Homo sapiens: one gene and its partner. The gene in region 1 interacts genetically with each later gene. Each region holds a gene or a part of one and is shown on either strand. Other genes may lie near its edges. The genes, in order: FAM120A and ARID1A.

What was found.
Region 2: changes in FAM120A (region 1) and ARID1A together harm fitness more than expected from each alone (negative genetic interaction), as found in Homo sapiens cells (one large-scale study listed by BioGRID).

What each region holds. Positions count from the first base shown.
Region 1 is NC_000009.12:93,513,882-93,517,697, reverse strand, and holds part of FAM120A (constitutive coactivator of PPAR-gamma-like protein 1), read right to left. Parts: intron 2,032-3,816; coding exon 1,931-2,031; intron 1,716-1,930; coding exon 1,429-1,715; intron 1-1,428. UniProt on the Homo sapiens protein: Component of the oxidative stress-induced survival signaling. May regulate the activation of SRC family protein kinases. May act as a scaffolding protein enabling SRC family protein kinases to phosphorylate and activate PI3-kinase.
Region 2 is NC_000001.11:26,702,259-26,706,074, forward strand, and holds part of ARID1A (AT-rich interactive domain-containing protein 1A), read left to right. Parts: intron 1-3,816. UniProt on the Homo sapiens protein: Involved in transcriptional activation and repression of select genes by chromatin remodeling (alteration of DNA-nucleosome topology).

The DNA of each region.
Region 1 (3,816 bases):
CTAGCATGGAACTCTTGTTGGGGTCATAAAGCTTACTTCTTTTGCTTTTTGTCTTACTTCTTACCTATGTTTCACAGTTTAGAAAGAACATTTCTTACTAAGACAAAAACTGTATTGTACAGACACTTGGACCTTGCTGACATGAGTCACGTTTTACAACAAAATGCACATGCCTTAGAAATCTGGCACATAAGGGCTTCCAAGACCATCAAGCAGTTGTTCTCAAACTTCAGTGTGCTAAAGACTGACTGAGGTGCTTATTTAAAATGCAAATTTGGGGGCCCCAACCAGAGATTCTGATTCAATGGGTACTCAATATATTATCTTGCTAGAGGTTAATTTAAAAATTTGAATATTCAATTGCAACTCTTTACTTCATTTTAGAGTCTTGGCATTGCATATACAGCAAATAAACATTTATTAATTTTATACTTCTCTGCACATACAACAAATCAACATTTATTAATGTTATACTTCTCTGCTATAAACAGGGTATGCATCCCTGGATGGCAGAGAGTCCTTCAGTAAGCTCTGCCCTGGGTCAACAGACATTTATTCCCATTTCACAGATGGACAGAGGACAGAGAGGAAAAGATCACCTGCTTCAGGTGACACACAAGGTAAGAACTGGCATGGAAGCTGACACCTATGTCTCTTACATTTCCTACATCAGAAACAGATGTAACATCAACCAGCCCTGGTTATCTGCGCTGTAAAGTAGAGTTCACACCAAGGAAAAGGAGACACTGACTTAAAGAAAAGAAATATTCTTTCCCTGTTTTTTTTGTTTTAAACATAAGACAATTTAAAGAAAGGGAGGAGTGCAAATTAAAGATTTCCTCGATCAAATTTTAACCAACTATGTATTTGTGAACCCATTTATTCAGGGACACACAGTGTTTAAAATACTCCTCTAAGGAAACAATTCCAGCCTGGGTCTAGGCAGCTTTCTAGGGTTTTGCTTGGGCAAACAGTGTTATTTCCAAAGTGTCCTGTAACCTGCTGAGTTTAGGAGAAGGAGAGGAAATTCAGAGCTCCCTTGATCCAGGAGCCAGAAGATTAATGTTTCGGGGGTCGGCAGGGGGTTGCTGTGACGGGTGTGAGTGGCACCACACCGGACAAATGCCCCCATGTTTTGGTCATCACACAAACCAGTTCTTGTCAAATTCCTCCCCAGAAAGTTTCCTGTGGCTCCAGGCCATGGGGCTGGGATAGTGCAGATTTTAAATCATGGAAACTTCAAGAACATACCTACTCTTCCTCTCTCCTCTCTGTCCAAGGAGCCCCCATCTGAGTACAGACTGACCATCACCCACCTGCAATAAACTACATCTCTGAGCAAAACACCAGCTGGGCTGGCAGGCCAGAAGGCAGCTTCCCCAGGTCACTACCCGCCAGGAAGCACCCAGCGACCCACGCACCACTCACTTTGTCGCCCCTCCGCTGCCCTCGTCGTTGTCGGAAGATGACGATGTAGAAGAGCCAGGGAAGTAGGCGGAATCCACGTGGTTGGGGCTGCCGCTCTGGGCCGGGTTGATGGGCGAGGACCGCTCATACAGCGGCGTGTGCTTCCCTTCGTGAGGAATGTTGCTGTAGCTGTTCTGCTCCGTCAGATTCTTCCCGCTCGTGTCCAAAGTGAGAGGTGCTGGCTCAGAGAGGCTGTACGGGTATGGACCCTGGCCCGGGGCGCCCCCTGGGCTGGGCACCTGTGGGGCCTGAAGCGAAGGGCACAGGTCACGCACACGTGGCCAGCAGGACCCGACTCAGGCCCAGGCTGACGTTTCCTGGCTCATTTTTATTTCAACAAACACTGGCATCTATTTCACGTATCAATTCAAGAGGTTAGGAACTTATTTTAGCATTCGTTGAAATTCAATGCACGCACCCTGTCTGAGACCCGCCACCCGACCCAACGCAGGGAAGGCCTTACCACGGGCTTTGCTTGCAGAGAGGTCTGCGGAATGTTGAGCATCTGAGGAGGAACATGCGGCGGCACCATCCCAGGCATTCCAAACGGACCGGGTCTGGCTGCTTCACCAACACAGAAAGAAAAGAATCACACAGCTGTGAACAGAATGCGTTTTCCAGGGCATCCTGGGGGCCAGCCCATGGCGCCAGGGATCTCACCCTCACCTGGCTCAGACATCGACACCACCATGGGTCCCACTTCTCAGAAATCATTACAAATTGCCATTTCACAGTAAGGAAAACTTAATTTTATGATGCTCCATTTGATGGACTCGGGCTGGGATTCTAACTTTCCAGATTTCTCAGTGAACTTGCCATAGTGGTTCTGCTCTCGTGTACTTCCTGAGGGCCTCGGCTGTCCCTCTGCCTGCAACTTGGTGGGGATTCTCTGTAACTCAGTCTCCCTGCTCAGGGCTGCTCCTAGCCTGAGGTCTCCGTGAAACCAGAAGCCCTGGCAGGCATGAAAGGAACAAAGTCGGACCGAACAGTTTCCTTTACCTTTGTCAAGCAAGAGGACTTTTCTATTTAAAGTACATTGCAACTACCATTAGGTTCTCAGCTAACTAGTGAGTTTTTAAATATAAAAGGAATTGCTTTTCATTGTTCAGCAATTAGGTTACACATTTTAACACATATACAGGATGAGTAATTTGTGATTCTGTGTTCTCTTAAAACATAATTTCATAAACCTGCCTGATGTGTGCTGCCATGTGCTAGTCATCATTCCCACGCTACCTTGCAAAAATGAAGAAATCTGTGAGAGGACTGAAAGCCACATAGAGGAATGGCTGAAGCAGGACAGCAGGACATGGAACCAGGCCAGCCTGAAGCTGGGACAGAAGGCAGGGGCTGGAAGCCTCCCCACTCAACCTCTGGCCTCGCGCGGCCTAACTAAGCACAGGAAGAGAGCTCAGGGGCCACGTCAGCCAACAGAAGTGAATGAGTGAGTAGATGGTGCCCATAAAGGGCTGTTCCAGAGACAGCACAAGACCCGCAGTAACAAGGACCGACTGGGGCCCAAATGATATGCAGGAAGCAGGAGGACATGGGACATGGACCTCTAGGAGCTGCACTCCCTCTCAGAACACTTAGGTGCTGAGGGCCTATGATGTGTCAAGCTGAGGACTGGGCCTGGGGATGAAAGGAGCCCTGAGGCGGTTTAAGTAAGATGCACACTGCTGAAGACACAGAGAAAATAGAAAACCTGTGTGAGACACAACAGATCCACCAGGGGCTTGCACGGCTGCACCATCTCTTCCTTGGGTTTGTTTTAAATGTGGAAGAAAACCAAGCCCAGAGCTTGCTGACTCCAATTTCCCTCTTTAAGCAGTAGATATGCTTCTACAACCTCTTCATCTGAACACCAGTTGATATGGTTAGGCTGCACATCCCCACCCAAATCTCATCTTGAATTATAATCCCCATAATCCCCACGTGTCTAGGCAGAGAGACTAGGTGGAGGTAATTGGATCATAGGGGCAGTTTCTCCCATGTTCTTCTAATGATAGTGAATGAGTTCTCACAAGATCTGATGGTTGTATAAGGGGCTCTTCCCCCTTCACTCGACACTTCTTACCGCTGCCTTGTTAAGAAGGTGCCTTGCTTCCCCTTCAACTTCTGCCATGATGCTAAGTTTCCTGAGGCCTCCCCAGCCATGCTGAACTGTGAGTCAATTAAACCTCTTTCCTTCATAAATTATCCAGTCTCAGGCAGTTCTTTATAGCAGTATGAAATCAGAGGAAAACACCAGGCAAGGGGAACACAACCCAAGAACCACCACCTCTCACACTGCCTACTGCCAATATAGGTAAGGACAGAAACATTCCCCAAACCTTCACTCTCGTTCTC
Region 2 (3,816 bases), on another chromosome or scaffold:
GCTATGGTTTAAAAAACTACATGGTGTGCTTTGCACGTGGTCCTGGAAATGCTATTCTTTCTCTTCTCCAGCACACCTGAATTTCCATTCTTTCTCTTCCTGGCTTAGTAGTTTAGAAGTGTAATTTAGGTATATTAGAGGAAGGAAGCTTCCCTTTATAAAGGAGGGAAAAGGGTAGAGGGAACAGTGTTTGATAATTCTGTGCTTGACACAGCATCTTCTATCGTCTCTGAAGGAACCAAATGTTTCAGAGCTTTGTGTAAATACTTGCTGAGCTGTCAATATGTACCCAGGAGGTTTCTGTAGTAAGATGTAAACTGTTCTATAGAATGTTTGACAGGCAAATTAATAAACAGTTTTCAAGCAAAGATAATGCTAGCCTCCTCATGTGGTGGAGTAAAATAACATTGGGGAAAAAGACTTGGGGATAGGAAAAGGGTAGTGCTGGGGGGCAGTGAGTGTGGAGATAAGAAGTGATCTAAAAAAAAATTGAAATGGAAAGATGCTGCCCTGGTAGTGAAACCTCTGTGGCCCTGGCTGCGTGCTAAGTTCAGGGCATGTGGTATCCTGTTAAAGTCAATTGCAGTTTCATAGTGAAAATAGAAGTTTGGAAAGAAGATCCTGACTGTCAATAGTAAGGTAAGTATTACCCCAGACACTTGGCTTATGAGACTTTGAGGTTTAAAGGGTAGCTTGGTGAGATTATTTTTGGCTTGGGTTTGCATTTCTGGAATATTAGAAAGGAGAAAAAAGATACTGCAACTTGAGTGTGATCTTTATCCTCAATTTTGCTGTTGTGCTGGGGATTATAAGTCCACTACCCAATGGCCTGGGTTTATTTATACAGTTTTTACTGGACTTCTGTGTATCACTTATGATAAAATTAATATGCCTTTACACTCTGTTCCTGGGTCAGTACAAAGTCCAAATATTTGGGGACTCACTACATCTTACTTGAAGGATTATGTGAGTAGATACAGTCTTTGTTTTTGAAATTGCCATTTTAGGATTAAAAACATATCTGGGTTCCTTCAGTGACACATTCTTTTTATGGAAGAAGAAGAAGAATCTATGAATATTTTAGCTGTCTGTCTGTGGTCCTCTTCTTTGGTAGCCTTGTGAGATGACCAGATTTGCCTTCTCAGAATGTCTTTTTTAACTAGATTCATTGATTCTGACACCAGTTTTCTTTATAAGAAGTGTTTTTTACACCAGAGTCCTGGAAGTGCCCTTTTGACTTAGCTGTTTATATAGTAGCAGGGAATATGAATGTAATTATGGTCCTGACTATGATTTTTAGGTTCAGCTAACTTACTACCAAAGGCTATCAGCTTGTTTTAATACAAAACACAAAAACTTGGATTGGCACTGACATAGGTTGCTTAATATTGCATGGTCCTTTCCCAGTATGTTGGTAGTGAGGGTATTAGGAACTTCAGACTTATTGCTGAGAGCATAGTTTCTAAGTCAGAGAGATCAGGAAATTCCAATGGGGATGGGAAATAGCCCTATGTGATTACACCAGCTAGGTACTAGGAAGAGATTTAAAAGGTAGAAACAATATCTCCTTCAGAGGCATTTAGTTTTCTTAGGAAAGCATGCTTATGTGCACACATCTGGAAAACTTGAAAAGCAAGGTTTCATAAATGGATGTAGACCACACTAATTATGTGAGCTGAAGGAATTAGAGGAAAAGGTTCAATCAGTTTGGCAGGGTTAACCTGGGACAGCTTTTCAGAGGCTTTTTTTGTGAAGCTAAATGTTCAAGAAACTTAGAATACTAATTTGCCTTTTCATAATGCTATTCTTAAGTTCCATGGGCTTGATAGAATCCACATTGCACATCCATCTCCAGACCAGTAGCTGTCTCAGTGTTCCAATGACTTTGAGAATTTGGACTCTAACCATAAAACTCCCTGAAAGAGTGGTTCCAGGGTCTTAGTGGTTCTTGTGGTCAGGTAGAGCCTTTGGTACAGACTGTTAAGTTCTTGGCTAGTTCAGGGGCACTTTTCTAGTAAATTTGGATTTGGAAGGTCATGTCACCTTCAGAGTTGTGTGCCCTGGACAGCTCTGTAGTAATGGTGGTTCAACTTTGTTGGTGAGTCTGTCTTGGCAGAGTTAGTTGACCTTTCTTAAAACAAGAGCCACGAAGTAAGTATCTGTTGGGACTCTTAGGCTGCTATTTCTGAGGAGCTGGGAGCTGTGTTCAAGTCAAGTTGCTTGTGTTAGACCTTATATTGAGGTTGATGGGTTAGGTAAGCCTGCACATATGCAGTCTGCCCATTTATTCATAGAAATGGCCTTTAATACTGTTTTTGGCCGGGCGCGGTAGCTCACACCTATAATCCCAGCACTTTGGGAGGCCAAGGTGGGAGGATTGCCCAAGCCCAGGACCAGCCTTGGGACCAGGCTATTAACATAGGGAGACCCCATCTTTACAAGACACAAAAATTGCTGGATGTGGTGGTACGTGCCTGTAGTCGCAGTTTACTTAGAAAGCTGAGGCAGGAGGATTGCTTGAGCCCAGGAGGTTGAGGCTGTTGTAAGCCATGATTACGCCAGTGCACTCCAGCCTGGGCAATGGAGCCAAGACCTTGTCTCAAAAAAAAAAAAAAAATTTGTTTTTTATTAGGTTACTATGGCCAAGCAGCTAACAAATGCTGCTCACCAATGCTTAATCCTTGTGGAGCCTCTGGAATATAGTGATTTTGGTTTCTTTACCTGCTGGTCGATCTGTGGTTGGGCCTTGGCACTTCACCGGTCAAGGATCATCAGTGGATGCTTAACAGCTGAAGATGCATGGCATGTCCAGTGCCAGGCCACTGTAATGCTTCTACCTGGAGAAGGATTGGTTACACTGCTCCAGTACAGAAGTACTGCAGACCTTTTTTTTTTTTTGAGATGGAGTCTTACTTTGTCACCCAGACTGGAGTACAGTGGTGCAATCTGGCTCATTGCAACCTCTGCCTCCCAGGTTCAAGCGATTCTCATGCCTCAGCCTCCTGAGTAGCTGGGATTATAGGCTTCCACCACCATGCCCGGCTAATTTTTGTATTTTTAGTAGAGGTGGGGTTTCATCATGTTGGCCAGGCTGGTCTTGAACTCCCAACCTCGGGTGTGATCCACCCACCTTGGCCTTCCAAAGTGCTGGAATTACAGGTGTGAGCCACCACGCCCAGCCTTTTTTTTTTTTCCCCCCCCCTCAAGTAATGGTCCATGACCTGCTGAAAGTACTGGAGTCTTGGATAAACATTCTGGTTTAGAAATACCTTTTCCACTTTTTTTGCCTTGCCATTTTGGCATTTTGCAAAAGTGGGTTTTCAGTTACTCAGAATTGGGCACCATAGTTAACCTCCTATGGATTACAGGTGTTTAGGGGCTTGAACTCTGATCATTCCCAGGTTTTAGAGGAATCCAAGTTCGGGTGAATATTGACTTAGTAGCCTTGAGTATTCTTCCTGAAATTACCCCTCCTCTCCATTTAAATGGATGAAATTAGTTTTTTACTGAATGTGAAGGGACATCTGAATGAACTTCTGTTTGTTTTTGTTAGTCACTTGTGCATAGCTGGAATATTATCTTGGGACAGGTTGAGTCTATTTCCCAGTGGCTTCTGCATTTTCTAAGGGTGGACTGGAATGGGAAGAAGTCTAATGCCAAGAATGCATTCCAACATGCTGCAGAGTAGGAAATTTGATCCCTAAAATGTTGACTTAGTGTTGGTCATGGTACATATTAGAAATCACCCAGTAATCCAGGACAGATTTTTGTCACCCTCCAGGAAGTTATGTTGATATAAATACTAAGGGGCTTTGG